2 separate regions of the Homo sapiens genome follow, and region 1 is reported to be linked to region 2. The links are microRNA targets in miRTarBase. Many come from high-throughput screens and were not tested one by one. Region 2 holds a microRNA gene; the other region holds the end of a gene's coding sequence.
The links. Region 2 holds the annotated microRNA hsa-miR-7-5p (UGGAAGACUAGUGAUUUUGUUGUU, at 3,528-3,551, opposite strand). A microRNA usually pairs through its seed, bases 2 to 8, with sites in the 3' UTR of a target mRNA and lowers its output. Matches are read on the target gene's strand: a 7mer-m8 pairs with bases 2 to 8, a 7mer-A1 pairs with bases 2 to 7 and ends in A, and an 8mer does both.

Region 1: miRTarBase lists PTAR1 as a target of hsa-miR-7-5p. Seed matches in the 3' UTR shown: 7mer-A1 at 7,813-7,819.

Annotation. Positions count from the first base shown.
Region 1 is chr9:69,711,857-69,720,048 of GRCh38, reverse strand. PTAR1 (protein prenyltransferase alpha subunit repeat containing 1) reads left to right here. Exons shown (of 8, transcript NM_001099666.2): 7 at 1,365-1,399; 8 at 1,481-8,192. The coding sequence ends at 1,707. Among named protein-coding and RNA genes, the nearest start is that of APBA1, 44 kb to the right of the region's middle.
Region 2 is chr19:4,766,059-4,774,250 of GRCh38, reverse strand. MIR7-3 (microRNA 7-3) reads right to left here and starts at 3,581; the gene lies at 3,472-3,581. It overlaps MIR7-3HG (MIR7-3 host gene), which reads right to left and starts at 5,146. Exons shown (of 3, transcript NR_027148.1): 1 at 4,900-5,146; 2 at 4,494-4,621; 3 at 1,695-2,087. RefSeq lists a silencer at 4,420-4,714.

The DNA of each region.
Region 1 (8,192 bases), not on the chromosome of region 2:
GTAGGATTATTGCTTGGCCTAATTTCAATATTGTTGTATCTCAGGGAACAGGGAGGCCTGGGGTGAGGGAGAGAGATGGGGGAAGAGCTGGTTGGTGGAGCAATCAGAACACACACAACATTTATTGGTTCAGTTTATCATCTTATATGGGTGTGTTTGTGACACCCCAAAATAGTTATAGTAGTAACATCAAAGATCGCTGATCACAGATCACATAACAGATATAATAATCTTGAAAAAGTTTGAAATATTAGTAATGTTACCAAAATGTGACACAGACAAAAAGTGACCACATTTTGTTGGAAAAATTGTGCTGATAGACTTGCTTGACACAAGATTGCCAAACCTTCAGTTTATAAAAAATACAGTATCTGCAAAGCACATTAGAGCAAAGCATAATATAAACTAGGTATGCCTGTATTACATAGGCCGGTTTTCTACTGCTGACTCATTGTCATTAGGCAGCTTATCTAGCCTTTAAGTTTTACCCCCTGTAAAAGTGGAACATTATGTGCTCCCTGTCTGCTTCAGAATATGCAAGGAAAATGAATAGAATTCTCTTAAGGGCTTAGAGTTGCTAATGTGAATGATGAGATGTAACAACCTAGAAGTTATACAGTTCATTGTACATGGATGTGCCCCCACTGAATTGAAATTTTTGGAGATTAGACGCGGGAATCTTCATTTTTAACAAACAATTGTAGGTGGTTGTAAGGGCAGGAGAATTGCTCTCCTCGGAGGGAGAACAGGAACTGTATCTTTTACATGTTTTGCTCAGAGCCCAGCACATCCCCAATGCATGTGGATGTTTAAAACTGTAGTTGGTGATGGATTTAGGGTAAAGTTCAGTTGACTTTTAGGGAATAAGACCCACTACAACAGATATGTTATTTTTATTAAAGTACTTGATAGAGGCCACAGATTAAGCCTCTAAAGGAACTGTTCATTCCCCTTATTTCTGAATCACTTGTCTTCTAGGATATCAATGAGATTTGTCTTGGTTTTGTTTTATATTTATAACTTATAGCAGAAATAAGACTGTCACATATTTCTAGTTTTATATTACGGTTACCATAGAGTACCATCTCCAAGTCATTGTCATCTCAGTAAATGCTTATGAAAAACCTTAGGACTGTATTCTTTCTCACAAACAAACCTGTAAGCTGGAGTTATAAGGCTTTCTTTGTCCAAATATCCTGGAACATCATCTCTACTGTTTTTCCTCCTTCCTCTGTATAACTTGGTTATGAAATGGGCAGTGAATTGAATACTGTATGTTTTGAAATTGCAAACTTTTTTTTCTGGAAAAGCTTGACTTTGTAATGTGATTTTCTTTATTCTCTTCCTTCCCCTCTCTATCGCAGGCGGCATATTTTCTACCTTCAGCATCACTTAAATGGTAGGTTTCCTCACAGCATGACCCAGTTGTCACCTGCAGACAGCCCTGGGGGGACTTTGAGTGACTTGCACCTTATCCCAGCAGGCTCCCAGCTGTCTCAAGCAATGGAAGTAGATGGACTGAATGACTCTAGCAAGCAAGGCTATTCCCAGGAAACCAAACGCCTGAAGCGGACGCCAGTTCCAGACTCCCTAGGCCTAGAAATGGAGCACAGGTTCATTGATCAAGTATTGTCCACCTGTCGGAACGTGGAGCAAGCCAGGTTTGCCAGTGCATACAGGAAATGGCTGGTTACTTTGAGTCAATGAAAGAGGTGAATTAGTCCTACAAGGTTCCCCTTTTAGTGCAATATTGCTTTCTTTTATTATTTACATAGTTGCATGAACTGTTTACTATTATTGGCTAACCATATGTTCTTCGTCTTTAGGTTGAAAGTCCATAGTAAATCTTTCATTTTATTTATTTTGTTAATAACTGGCATTCCTGTGGGGATAAAATAATCGTATAGTTCCTTCCTGCTGAACAGCGAGTCTTAAATTTTCTGTTTAACTTCTCACCCTTTGTATTTCTATATGTGGGGCTTCTCATTTGGTTTTCCTGATTGGTTCACACACACACACCTCTACCCCCCTCAGTCCAATTGCTGCATAGGCAAATTCTTTTAAAAATTAAAAATTTAAGGCCTAGGCAGGAGGATTGCCTGAGCCCAGGACTTTGAGACCAACCTGGGCCACATAGCAAGACCCGATTTCTACAAAAAGTAAAACAAAATAGCTAGGCATGGTGCTATGCAACTGTGTTCCTAGCTATGCAGGAAGCTGAGGCAGAAGGATTGCTTGAGCCCCAGGTGTTTGTGGCTGTAGTGAGCCATGATTGCACCACTGTACTCAGCCTGGGCAATAGAGTTGAGACCCTGTCTCTAAAACAAATTGAAAATAAACATTTATGTTGCAGTTCAACTGAAGAATGTTGGTATGAATGCCGAATAACTTGATGTAATTGTTTTGAGAATCAAATGGCTAGATGGGCGAATGTTTAAAAATGTAAACTAGTTCTCTTTCTCTAGCATGTTCTACCCAATTACCAAAGTCAGAAGTATTGGAATTTATATGAAAAAAATGCTTCCAATGTAATCCATTTTTTAAATGGTTATTTAAGAAAAAACTAACTTAAGAGTTTATGTAATTGCAGTAAAGGAAAATTATTTTTATTGCTAGTTTTGATAGATTATTTTTACCTCAAATTTGGTATATGCCAAAACACATCAGTCCTTATAAAATTGATTTTTTTTTCCTGAAAACCTGGAATGCCATTTTTAGCTATTACTACTTTTTAATTTCAAATTCACTTATGACAAATGGGAGAAATATATAAAGAAATAGATCCATAAAAATATTCCTTTTTAAAAATCTAAATTATTGAGGATACACTATGGAAACTATAAAATTATCATGAAGTGACTGTTAAAGTTTACTGGCAAATGCCAAGGGAAGGAATAGTATGTGCAAAACAAAACACTTTGATACTGAACTTAATCAGGGATGAGGTACCAAAGTATCCACATTATAGCCGTATCTTATGTTTCCAATAACAAGGGCTGAGTTTTTCAGGTAGGTGGGATGAGGGTGGGGAATGGGCCATGTAATGTCTGCTTTCTTATATTTGCCCTTTTGTAAGTGGTCTGTTTCTTCTTTTCATATACTTTGTTTTGCCAATCCATTACGTATTTTTTGTCACTTTTGTGTGTCATTTTTGTATACCTTTCCTTTCTTACTTCAGGGGTGTGTCTTCAAGATTTCTACCCCCTATTTGCAATGAATTTCATACCTCATCTAAAATACATTCATATACCAGAAATATGAAGAGTGGCCCTTCTAAAAGTTTCCCTAATGATGGAAGCTGTCAGTTGTCCTATCTGTGCAGAATGTGAGTAATAGTGGCAGAAATAAGTGTGACAACAATGCTTTGCCTGTTGTTCTTTTTACTTGCTAGGTAATTTGTAAAGTGGGGATAAAGATGTAGGGAAAGTAAACCTCTCTCTCACTGTTACGGAAAGCCTGGACTTGAGTTAGGTAGACTGCCTTAAAGAAGAAGAAATATGTCCTTTTCTTTGGCATCATGGTTTTGTTGAGTGGCAGACTGTTGAAGTGAGTTGAGACTTAAGAACGCCAGAAAAGTTGTCTAGCCTGGCCCCAGTAGACAGAATTTGTTCTTCTCTCAAGTAAAAAATTACCTTTTTATAGCTTTTATATTATTTAGATGAAAAAATACCATTATGAACATAATTCCATGGCCCTTTGTGTACAAAGCATATTTTGAATTAAATACCTCAAGGTCCACCTAGACCTCTATGGATAAAATCATAAGTTTATGATTTTTAGCTCCTGTGAGTGTTTGGGGGCAAACTACACAGAGAAGACATGGGTGGTTCAGCCCATTCCACTAAAATATGTTGCCAGATTCTGGCCTAACTCAGTATTACCTTTTTTCCTAAAAATCATTTTTCACATTTTGAGTAATAGGGCTTATGCTTTGATGTGAAAAAATGTCAGGAAATGAGTGTAGACAATACCCTATAAAACACTAGCTAAGTTTTATAGTGCTCCATGCCTTTGTGTACCTTCCACTGATTATCTTGCCTATCTTTGGTGTGTAAACTATTTTCATATCTTCTAAGGCTCTTAACCCACTCTTTTCTGAAGCCGCACAGTCCTTTAATATGTCTTGTTTCCTTCCTAAAAGTTTAAAGTAGAGAGCAAAAATGCAAATACCCAAAGGATACTGTTAGTATGTAACTTTTGTGTGCTGCTTTATTTCTAGAGTTTGCATTTTTTAATTGTTCATTCACAGAAAATCCTAATATTGCCCTATATGGTTGGTTTTTTTCCTAAGTGGTTAATATTTAAACCCGCTAGCTGTAGCATGATAATGTCTTTGACTGAGCTTATGTAGTAGAAAGGATGTGTCTGTTTTCTGGGACTTTTAGTCTTCACTTATTTTTCTATAACAATCTAATTGTTAAAAGGAAAAGATGGCTTATTGACACATATTTCATTAAACTTTCACTGGAAGAACAGTGGGTCATCCTACTGTGGATTAAGAATACTACTGACAAGCAAAAAGCATTAAGCTCTGTAACTGTCTCCAACACCACCTTCACCCCGCCTTTAGTGTACCTTAGTGTACTTTAGTGTACCTATTTTGGCAGTACGGTGTTTTCCAGATTCTACTTGTGCCCTGCACATTGTGAGGACTCATTAAATATTTATTAAATTAATGAATGACTAACAGGAAGAGAAAGATTGTTTGTGAGTGTTAAGAATGAGTGATGATTGAGAAATTGATGGATTAGTGCAATGGATTGGGAATGAATGATGCTTTCTAGTTTCGTAATACTTGGGAAGAGCTATTGCATATAGAGTAAGTTGATTTAGACTTTTTTTTTCTTCATTTCATTACCTTGTTTAAACTTGTTAAATCCCAGCCAAGAAATGCAGCTCTGTAATTGTCAATTAACTGTATTATAATATATATTAAAAATTTGTAGAGCTAAAGAACCCACTTGCATTAAGAACACCACTTTCTGTTCATTTGTGATACTAGAGGACAGATCCTGCATACAGAGCCGAAACTGCTTTTAATCATCTGAAGAAATTCTTTGATTTCAGTGACTTACTGATCTGTACCTGTGCACATATCATTTTATGCTTCTCCTTTTTTCCCCGCAACTTGAACTGTGACTCTTTCAGATATTTCTTAAATCTGTATGAGTCATTTTTTAAGCTTAGGGATTTGATATGTATTAATGTCCCCTTTGTCTTCTGTAGATTTTAGCATTTTATTACCTCTTAAGAAACTCTGGGCCCAGACTTTCAGTCATATTTCTTATTCCTATGGTACAGTTCTCACTTAAAGGCTTAATTATTAGTAGGGTTAAATATATACAGGTTATCTCTAAAAGTACTTAAATTTTTAAATAAGGGCTTATGTGATACAAGATACGGAAACAAAAGTTTTTGGATTTTTATGCAGTAGTTTGCAGGAAAGCAAATACATAGTAGATCGTATGCCACTTAGGTATGTTCAGGTCATGCCAGTTTATTCTTGTTGGGCCACACACACATGTATGTGTGTGTAAAAGGAATTTTTAGTATTGAAGCAAACAAATTGTCAGTTTAATAATTTTCTCTTACATAGCACAAGATGGCAGATACCACCTACTGTACAACAATCTAATAATCCCTACCTTAGTTCCCCTGAGTTATAGAAGATGCTAAAGATTTAGTTGTAAAGGGAAGTAACATGATTTTTTTTTTCTAAAAAGCTGTTTTAAGCTAACTATTATTTTGCTACTGGAAAATTATATTTTAAAACTTACAGATATTTAAAGTATGCTAGAAAATTTGAACCTGATAACAACTGAACCTTTTGTCTTGAATAAATTTCTCAAATAGAACTGTGCAAACCCTAGCACTTTATGTGTTGCTGCCTCCCCATACCTAGGTATGCTCTGTAATAAGCTCCCATTTAATGGAGAGATGTGTGGAGGCACTGAGAAGTTAATGAAGAAAAATCAACCCTAAGAATTCCTTATTGTCACATAGTGTCTTTTAAAAAATAACTGTAGAGACTGTGTTAATTCGAGTGCCTTTCTTACTTTTTTGGGAGCAAGATTATATTTAATGTTTAAGAAAACAGGATGGAAGTTTTATCAAACAGTTGATTGTGGCCCATTGTTTTATTTATTCCCATCGCTAGGCATGGCCCCGTAGGGTATTTTATCCTTCAGTGAGAGACTGATATAAGCAGGCAGGATGCTTTGATTATTCCATTAGTTATCATTTTAAGCACCCTACCAAGATTTAGTTCTTTCTTTCTGGCAACTAACGTTTTGGGGGTTGGAGGCATCCCATTTAGAGGATGGTGTGTGCACAAATAGATTAGCCTGAAACCTGCGTCCAAAGGGAAACAGTGGCACTCTGCCCTAAAATAAAGGCCAGAACGTTGTCCTAAATGAATCCTTTGCCTTACTTTAGGACCTTCCTTCCCTCTCAAATTCAGGCATAATGTAATATAGTTGAAAGGGGGAAAACAGTACTTGCTTTCTCTCAGGTATTGGAGGAAAAGAAGTAAATGCGTAGATGAAATTTTAAATGTATCATTTTATCTGTTTGTATATGGAGAAGGGAGGGATAGGAATTCCATATTTCAAGATAGCAAATATAATTTCATAGAAATATATAGCTAAAGATTCCAAAGTGCTTTTACAGAGAACTGTTGAATAATATATTCCTAAAGGGCAGCAATATGCCATGTTCATGGTGAAGACAGAAAACCAATGAATCAGTTGTGGATCTCAGGTGGGAGAGGAAACCTCAGGCTCCCAACTTTGACTTCTCTACTCTCACCAGGCCATGTTAACACTGTAAAACCAAACTCTTTGCTAAGAACAATACAGGGCAGTAGTTTAGTCTGCTGATGAAACCTTGTGCTTCCAAGAATATTAGCTATATATAATTTGTGCTTTCTGGATGATTCTATTGTCCAGAAAGCTAACCCTGACGTTACTTTTATTAGTCTGTTGTTATTCCTCAGGGTGTAGAAGATTTAGTAAATTCAGGACAAATTTTATATTCAGTGGCAAAAAGAAAAGGCAAAAATATGCTAAATATATTATTAGCTCTTAAATTTTAGTATAGATCGTATTTTTTATAAACTATTACCAGTACAGTAGCTAGTAGATATTCTGTGACTGCCTCATTGTTTATCTTGCTGCTTTGGTCCCTATGGCTCTAGTATGAACATTCTCGTGTCTTCTGTGGAAATGATTTCTGTGTTATAGTTCCATCTTTGGTAGAGGTGGGGATGATTGTATTTTGTTTTAGTTGACATCATTCTCAACTTTTAGAAATACTGTTGAGGAAAATGATTACCGTTGGTTTTCAAATTGACAACTATTTTGCTTCCAAAGACTTCAGTTTCCCTTTGTTTTATGTGTAGACCTCATATATGTTCAACACATTGCATACTGCCTTGCACATTGTAGGAATTCAACAAGTCAAGAGTTGATAAAAGCTAGAAAGATAAAACTAGCTTAGCTATCATATCATCATTGTCCATATTCTTAGCTTTGGGAAAAATATACCATTTTGCATAAAATACATAATCAGTTTCAAATGCATAAGGCAAAGATATACAGTTGCACAACATTGCAAGTGAAATTTACAAAGGATTTTTATTTTTGTGTATGCTAAAAGTGCTCCTACTTAAAGCAGTTTTCTTTATTAGACCAACACCTTCCAGCAAAGTTAGAAACCAAACACAAGTGCTCATTTGCCCAAATTAACCAGATAGTTATGTAAACTGTTCATATTAAGTCTTTAGTGGTTTACAAACAATAACATTCTGGCTTTTCTTCCATACCTTTTAGGAATCAGCCTTAATTTTAAGTATAGCAGTCACTTTCCTCAAGGTACTATGCAGCATACTTTAGATTGCTTATTTATCATTATAAGGTGATAGGTAATAAATTTGAGGTTTACTTGTCATATAATTTCATATGGCAGATATTGATTCAAGGAGCATTCTATTAGAAAAAGTTGATAAATTATCCTCCCTTACAAATATCATCTTGCATTTGGAGCAGGTATTTTTTTCTTATTAGTTAAAGACTGGGTACAGTTATAGTAGATGCTCAATAAATGCTTAGTCAGTGATTGATCTAACATCAAACTAACAGCTTTCAGAAAGGAGACTGTTGACATCTTTTCACCAAGGAGTATATTTGTAGAGT
Region 2 (8,192 bases):
TGGGAGAGGGTGGTAAGTTGGTTGGACCTCTGTGGGTAATGGCTCGTCTTTACAGGGGTGTGTGGCCTCCAGGATTTTCTGTGTGATGAAGGTGATAGGCTCAGGCACAAGCATTTATACCCAAAGTGAATATTGGATGCCAGCACTGAGCTAGGCGTGTGTGTGGGGAGGTCAGGGGTACAAAGATGAAACTGCCAGGAAAAACTGAGGGCTCCCAGGGGTCTTTGGGGGAAAATAAAAGGTTAGTGTGGCTTTAAAAAGAATCAATAAAGGCTGGCCGGGCGCGGTGGCTCACGTCTGTAATCCCAGCACTTTGGGAAGCCGAGGTGGGTGGATCACTTGAGGTCAGGAGTTCAAGACCAACTGTGCCAGCATGGTGAGACCCCCATCTCTACTAAAAATACAAAAATTAGCTAAGTGTGGTGGCACGTGCCTGTAATCCCAGCTGCTCAGGAGGCTGAGCCAAGAGAATCGCTTGAAACCAGGAGGCAGAGGTTGCAGTGAACCGAGATCATGCTACTGCACTCCAGCCTGGGCAAGAGTGAGACTCTGAAAAAATTAGACCGGTGCAGTGACTCATGCCTGTAATCCCAGCACTTTGGGAGGTTGAGGCGGGTGGATCACTTGAGGTCAGCCTGGCCAACATGGTGAAACTCCGTCTCTACCAAAAATATAAAAATTAGCTGGGTGTGGTGGCACACGCCTGTGGTCCTGTGCAAGTGATCCACCCACCTTGGCCTCCCAAAGTGCTGGGACTGCAGGCATGAGCCACCACGCCCAACCGGATATTTGAACGTTATTCTGCAGTCAGTGGGGCTCTTGGAAGGGTGACAGGCAGGAGTGGAACTTGGTCAGATGTGTGTTCTGGAAAGTCCCCTCGCTGCATGTAGAGAATGAACAGGCTGTATGTGTGTGTATGCTCAGAGGGGAGACAGTGAGGAGATCCGGACATGCAGGGAGGCGGAGGTCATGGAGGCAGAGGGCTGGAGGGAGGTCATGGAGGCAGAGGGCTGGAGGAGAGAGGATGGATTTGAGCACAGTGACTCATCTTGGGGATCATGGGGAGTGGATGAGGAGGGGAGGATCTTGGGCATGTAGAGGGACTGTCATATTCATGGGCATGTCAGGGGAGGAAGCTAGGGGCTGGGCAGATTGAGTGTTCACTTTGAAATGATTAATTTGGGGTGACTGGGAGACACCCATAGCAGAATGTCCTCCTCCATTGAGGACCCCAGAAGGCAATATCTGTGTGCCTTTTCCTTTCTGAAAGACCTTGCATTCCCAGGGGGCAATTCTAAATAGACCAGGAAACCTCCCACAATTAGACCTAACCCAGACATTGAACCTCCCTCTGCTCAGCCCATTCATAAAGTGCCTCTGGCATTTAGGTGTCTTCTAATCTCATTTTCTCTGCTTGTTAATGGACCCACTGAGGCAGTACTCCTGGGAGAGAGAGAAAGATTTCATTTGTCTGGGGCTGAGGAGGGAGACGAGGGTTGCCAGAGCTAATGAGGAATCAGTGCCTTGTAATTGCTAATTAAATGAGCCTGGCTCTCTCTCTTGGGGCTGTGAGTTGGCTGGCCGGCCCTTAAGTGTCCACAAATTCAATTATGCTTCCCCAATAAACACCTCCAGCAACCATTGCCCTCCAGTATCTCTCTGGGGGAGACCTAGAAGAAGGATCTTCCTGTGTGTGCTGAGGCCATTCATTCATTTATTGATTGATGTATTGGTTTATTCTTTGATGCCTTTATTGATTCAACACATGCTTATTATATGCCTGCTGTGTGCCGGGCCCCGGACCAGGCGCTGGGGACACAGCAGTGAAAATACTAACATTGTTTCTGCCCTCACGGAGCTCACAGTGTAACAGGGAGACAAATAGACCTGTCAGTAGATAACATGAAAATAATTGGACTATGTGCTGCAGACACAATATCCCAGGTCTATGAGAATGTCAATACAGACTTCACGTGGGAAATGGTGAGGCAATAAGGATCGTTTCCCTTGATGAAATGGAGCTTGCAGAAGAAGGCAGGGTCAGTTGTGGGGAGCTCTGGTTGGAGGTGGAGGGAGTGCATTCCAAGCTGCAGGAACAGCAGAGGCAAAAGCCCTGAGGCTGGAGAACAGGTAACCATGTGCAGTTTTTCACTTGATTAGGGTGTTGCAGAGAATTGGGAGTGAGTCTTATATATTTATTTATTTATTTATTATTTTTTACTGAGATGAGGTCTTGCTATGTTGCCCAGGCTGGTCTCGAACTCCTGAGCTCAAGCTATCCTCCCACCTTGGCCTCCCAAAGTGCTGGGATTACAAGTGTGAGCCACCATGTCTGGCAAAGGTGGTGAGCCTTTATGATGTCATAAGTCACCACTGGGCACAAGTTCACACTTGTCCTATGATTGGCCCATGACACTGATGGGTAGCAGACAGGAAAGGAATCTTTTCTGAAACTTTTTTTTTGAAACAGGGTGTTGTTCTGTTGCCCAGTCTGGAGTGCAGTGGTGCAGTCATGGCTCACTGCAGCCTTGATCTCCCAGGCTCAAGTGTTCCTCCCACCTCCTAAGTAGTTGGGACTACAGGCATGTGTCAACTCACGGGGTCTCACTATATTGCCCAGGCTGGTCTCAAACTCCTGTACTCAAGCAATCCTCCCATCTCATCCTCCCAAAATGTTAGGATTACAGGTATGAGCTCCCACACCCAGCCCACTTCTGGAACTTTTATTGAAAAGTATCCTTAGGCTGGGTTCGGTGGCTCACACCTGTAATCTTGGCACTTTGAGAGGCTGAGGCAGGAGACCATGTCTTTACAAAAAAGAAAAAAAAAATGTTTTTTGAGACAGAATCTCTCTCTGTTGCCCAGGCTGGAGTGCAGTGGTGCAATCTTGGGTCATGCAGCCTCTGCCTCCTGGGTTCAAGGGATTCCCATGCCTCAGCCTCCCGAGTAGCTGGGACTACAGGTGTGTGCCACAACGCCCAGCTAATTTTTGTATTTTTAGGAGAAATGGAGTTTCACCATGTTGTCCAGGCTGGTCTTGAACTCCTGGCCTCAAGTGGTCCACCTGCCTTGGCCTCCCAAAGTGCTGGGATGACAGGCGTGAGCCACCCGGCCAAAAAAATAATAATTTTTTTTTTAATAGAAAAGTACCCTGAGAACTCTGGTCTAGGGAGGGCTTTAAATGTCATTCCCTCATTGGGTCTCCCAGGAAAGCGCCATAAGGTGGTTAGAGGTCTTGGGTTTAGAGTCAGGTATGTTCTATCTCCAGGCTTGTGGGGGCGTACGAGTGATGTGACAAACCCCATACATGGTGCATGGCTGTATGAGCACAGGATGTATGTCCTTGTTTGCTTCCCTCCTTTGCCTGTGCCTGTATCGCCTGGAGTGAGCCAGCCCCCCCACTCCGAGTGGAAGCGATTCTTCCCCGACCTCCCCGGTTCTCCCCCACTGGCCAGCCCATTGAAGGCGAAGGTCGAAGGGAGTCTGCGCTATGAGGCCGGCTGTGACTTGTTGTCGTAGTACATCAGAACAACAAAATCACTAGTCTTCCACACAGCACTAGACCACAGCCACTCTAATCTTCTTCACCACCCTCTGCCCCATGTCTGAGACCCCTGCCCAGCTCCTCCTTCTCACCTGAGCCAAGCTATGACACCTGAGTTTCCTGCCTCTGTGCTGCCTCCCTGTTTTCCATTCCCGGTTCTCCTGGAGAGAAGCAGGGTCTGATCTCCAAGGGCCCACCTCCCACCCAGGCACGTCAGAGACATGGGATTTGGAGTTGGACTGGTGGGGTTGACTTACAGCTTCACTTGTGGGCTGAGAGTCCCTGCGTGGGTTATTTTTCTGCCTTTCTCAGGGCCTTGGGTTCCCCAAATGTCACATGGGCACAGTAACACCCATGTCCTAGGGTTGAAGATGGCATGATATGATGTATGTAAAATGCTTGGCACAAGGTTTCTCACCGAAGTCTGGAAGAGACACCATAATGTCATCTTAGCAGGCAGCTGTTACCCCAGTGAGGTATCTTACCTGTTGAAAATTCCGGACTTGGGCCAGGCGCAGTGACTCACGCCTGTAATCCTAGCACTTTGGGAGGCTGAGGTGGACGGATGAAGAGGTCAAGAGTTTGAGACCAGCCTGGCCAACATGGTGAAACCCCGTCTCTACTAAGAATACAAAAATTAGCCGGGAGTGGTGGCATGTGCCTGTAATCCCAGATACTCGGGAGGCTGAGGCAGGAGAATCCCTTGAACCCAGGAGGCAGAGGTTGCAGTGAGCCGAGATCGTGCCACTGCACTCCAGCCTGGGCGACAGAGCAAGACTCCGTCTCGAAAAAAAAAGAAAATTGCAGACTTCTGTGTGTGCTTATCTGGAAAATACTTTGTTTAAAAATCCATTACATGAGGTGCAGGTCTCCAGAAATGCCAGGCACCTCAGACCACCCTCTCTCGTCCTCCCCCTGCAAAATCAGGGTCAAAGGGCTCTCCCGTTACCTGGAGGAGCTGTCCAGGGTTCTGGAGACGAAACGGAGCCCGCTGGGAACTGTCCTGAGCCCCGGTGCTGAAACAGATCGCGGTTCTCTTCTCGGACCTCCCGAGAGGCGCTGTCCGGATATTTGGTGCTGAAATAAATAGCATTCTCCTCCTTCGGTCGGTGGAGAGCTGTCCCTCGTGCTGAAGAAAACTTGATTTTCCTCTCTCTTTCCCCGTTCCCCCACCCCTCTTCGTTCTCGGTTCCTCCGATTCTTGGGAAACCCCACCCCCACTCAATTTATTTCCCCTCCTAGCTTCTTCCTGGGGAGCTTCAGAATGGCAATGGGGTGGCGGGGGGGAGACACAGAGGGGTCGCAACTAGCACTGATACCTGCTCCTCACCCTGTACCATGTCCCCAGAACTTACCTCCCAAGCAGTCAGCCCTGCTGGTCTCTGCTTTCCAGACCGTCAAACTTCGCCGTCTCTGTCCCTTTCTGGGAAAATGTCCATGCGCCAACCTGCAAACCAGCCTCATTCCCGGCATCCCACGTCCCTCAGACCACCCCTCCTCCCACGCAGCTGCGGGCCTCCCCCTCTGTGTGCCTCACCTGCTTCCAGTCTTGTTGGCAGATGCAGGTGTCCCGTGGCTGCCGAGGCGGGGACCTGCGCTTTTATAGGCTTCAGGGAAGGCGGAGCGCCAGGAATCCTGGGAGGGGCTTCCCCAACTGGCCAATGGGATTCCGCCTCAGAATGAAGCTCCAAAGATTACCTCATAGGTTGTGGCCCACGCTTCAGAATAAAAGTCTGGCATCTGCCCAAAAACTGGGCTAGGGGATTTTTTCGGATGGGGAAGGAGCATTCATTGTGGACCATGGAGTCTCCCCACTCTCTCCAATCCCCTCCTGGGTTCCTGAGCTCCAAGTTCGTTCAGGTGTCCTGGCTGGTACCTGTTTCTTCCCATTCCCAATTTTTGCTATTGCTCCTGGTTCAGGAAAGAAAAAGCTGGTAAACTGTTTTGGGAAAAAATAAGGGATGTGGAGAATATTAAAGTCCAGTTCCACCTAGGGCAACTGACGTCTGTGAAAATGGAGGGCTCAGAAGACTCTGGGGCAGAGGTGGGACTTAAGCCTGAAGCTTTTGATTCCTTAACTCAAAACCCAATTTATAAAATTCAGCTTATTGTAGTGCTATACTGGGCAGGCTCTGAACCAAAAAACGAAGAAACTGGGGTTCAAGTTCAGATTTTTCTTCTCCTTCCTTTGGGACATTGGGCACAGTTGTGCCTCAGTTTTTGCAACTGTGAAGTAGTGATAATAGTAGAGTATTTGCTGAGGAACTAATGATATGGTGTGGATTGCATGTTAGAAATAATCAGGGCAGGGGCTAATGTGAGTTGGGTGAGGCACCAGCCTCAGGTGCAAAACTTAAAGGGGCACCAAAAAACTCAATAATCAAGGTAAATAATATTTCAGGCCAGGTGCAATGGCTCATGCTTGTAATCTGAGCACTTTGGGAGGCCAAGGTGGGAGGATCACTTGAGGCCAGGATTTCAAGATGAGCCTGGGCAACATAGTGAGACCCCGTTTCTGAGAGAGAAAGAGGGAGAGAGGGAGAGAGAAAGAGAGAAACAGAGAGAGAGAGAGAGAGAGAGAGAGAGAATGGCACCTGTGGTCTCAGCTACTTGGGAGGCTGAGGTGAGAGGATCACTTGAGGCCAGGAGGTCGAAGCTGCAGTGAGTTATGATTGCACCACTGCACTCCAGCCTAGGTGACAGAGCAAGACCCTGTCTCAAAAAAAAATCGATGCAATGTTTTAAGAAATCAAAATGTATGCCAAAATCCACAATGAACAAAATATCAAAAATGTAAATAAAGGCAGAACCAGCCTTTCTGACTTTTCCTTTTGCCTGAGGTCCCAATATGGCTTGGCATGGCACTAGCAATCATGTCTGTTTACGGTAAGTTTTCTAATAATGCAGCTGTTATTCTTTCCTGATCTATTCCACCCATTTATTTGCTCAACAAACTTGTTGTACTAGGCACTGGAGATACATACATGAATTCAGCAACCAACCTTGCCTTTAGGGAGGGTAAAGACATGAAAACTCTGCTCACATGTTGGTATGGGCATTGGGTTGAAGGAACAGTCAGTGTAAGGGCCCTGGTGGGGGTGGGGGAAAGAACAGGCCCTGGGGGGTGAGCAAGCATAGAAGGGACAGTTAGGATATAAATCAGGGACAGCTGTACAGGACCTGATCATTCAGGCCAGGACAAAAGTGAAGTTCCTCAGGTTGCACAGGAAGACCTGCCACCCTTTCTCTCTCCCCTTCCCTAAGCTTTTACTCTGTGCCAGGGTCAGTGCCAGACATTCTACCTGCTGAGTGATCTGAAGGCCTCAGGGCAGCCCCATGAGATAGATCCCAGCCAGGTGCGTTGACTCACCCCTGTAATTCCAGCACTTTGGGAGGCCGAGGCGGGTGGATGACCTGAGGTCAGGAGTTCGAGACCAGCTTGGCCAATATGGTGACACCTCGTCTCTACTAAAAATACAAAAATTAGCCGAGTGCGGTGGCGGGTGCCTGTAGTCCCAGCTACTACAGAGGCTGAGGCAGGAGAATCGCTTGAACCCGGGAGGCAGGGGTTGCAGTAAGCCAAGATCATGCCACTGCACTCCAGCCTGGGTGACAGAGCGAGACCTTGTATAAAAAAAATAAAAATAATAAAAAAATTGAAAAAGGGCCGGACATGGTGGCTCACGCCTGTAATCCCAGCACTTTGGAAAGCAGAGGTGGGTGGATCACCTGAGGTCGGGAGTTTGAGAACAGCGTGACCAACATGGAGAAACCCTGACTCTACTAAAAATACAAAATTAGCCGGCATGGTGGCACGTGCCTCTAATCCCAGCTACTTGGGAGGCTGAGGCAAGATAATCGCTTGAACCCAGGAGGTGGGGGTTGCAGTGAGCCAAGATTGTGCCACTGCACTCCAGCCTAGGCAATAAGAGCAAAACTCTGTTAAAAAAAAAGAAGAAGAAGAACAAAGAAAGGAAGGAAGGAGAAAGAGAAAGAGAGAAAAAAGAAAGAAAAAGAAAGAAAGAAGAAAGAAAGAAGAAAGAAAGAAAGAAAGAAAGAAAGAAAGAAAGAAAGAAAGAAAGAAAGAAAGAAAAAGAAAGAAGGAAAGAAAGAAAGAAAAAGAAAGAAAGTTCTTTTTGGCTGGATGCCTGTAATCCCAGCACTCTGGGAGGCCAAGGCAAGTGGATCACCTGAGGTCAGGAGTTTGAGACCAGACTGGACAATATGTTGAAACCCCATCTCTACTAAAAATACAAAAATTAGCTGGGCATGGTGGTGCATGCCTGTAATCCCAACTACTCAGGAGGCTGAGGCAGGAGAATCGCTTGAACCCAGGAGTTTGAAGTTGCAATGAGCCAAGATTGCACCATTGTACTCCAGCCTGGGCAACAAGAGCAAAACTCCATCTCAAAATAGACAGAGAGAGAGAGAGAGAGAGAGAGAGAGAGAGAGAGAGAGAGAGAGAGAGAGAAAGGAAAGCAGGCCTTTTGACTGGGCACAGTGGCTCATGCCTGTAATCCCAGCACTTTGGGAGGCCAAAGCGGGCAAATCACGAGGTCAGGAGGTCGAGACCAGCCTGGTCAACATGGTGAAACCTCGTCTCTACTAAAAATACAAAAAATTAGCTGGGCATAGTGGCGGGTGCCTG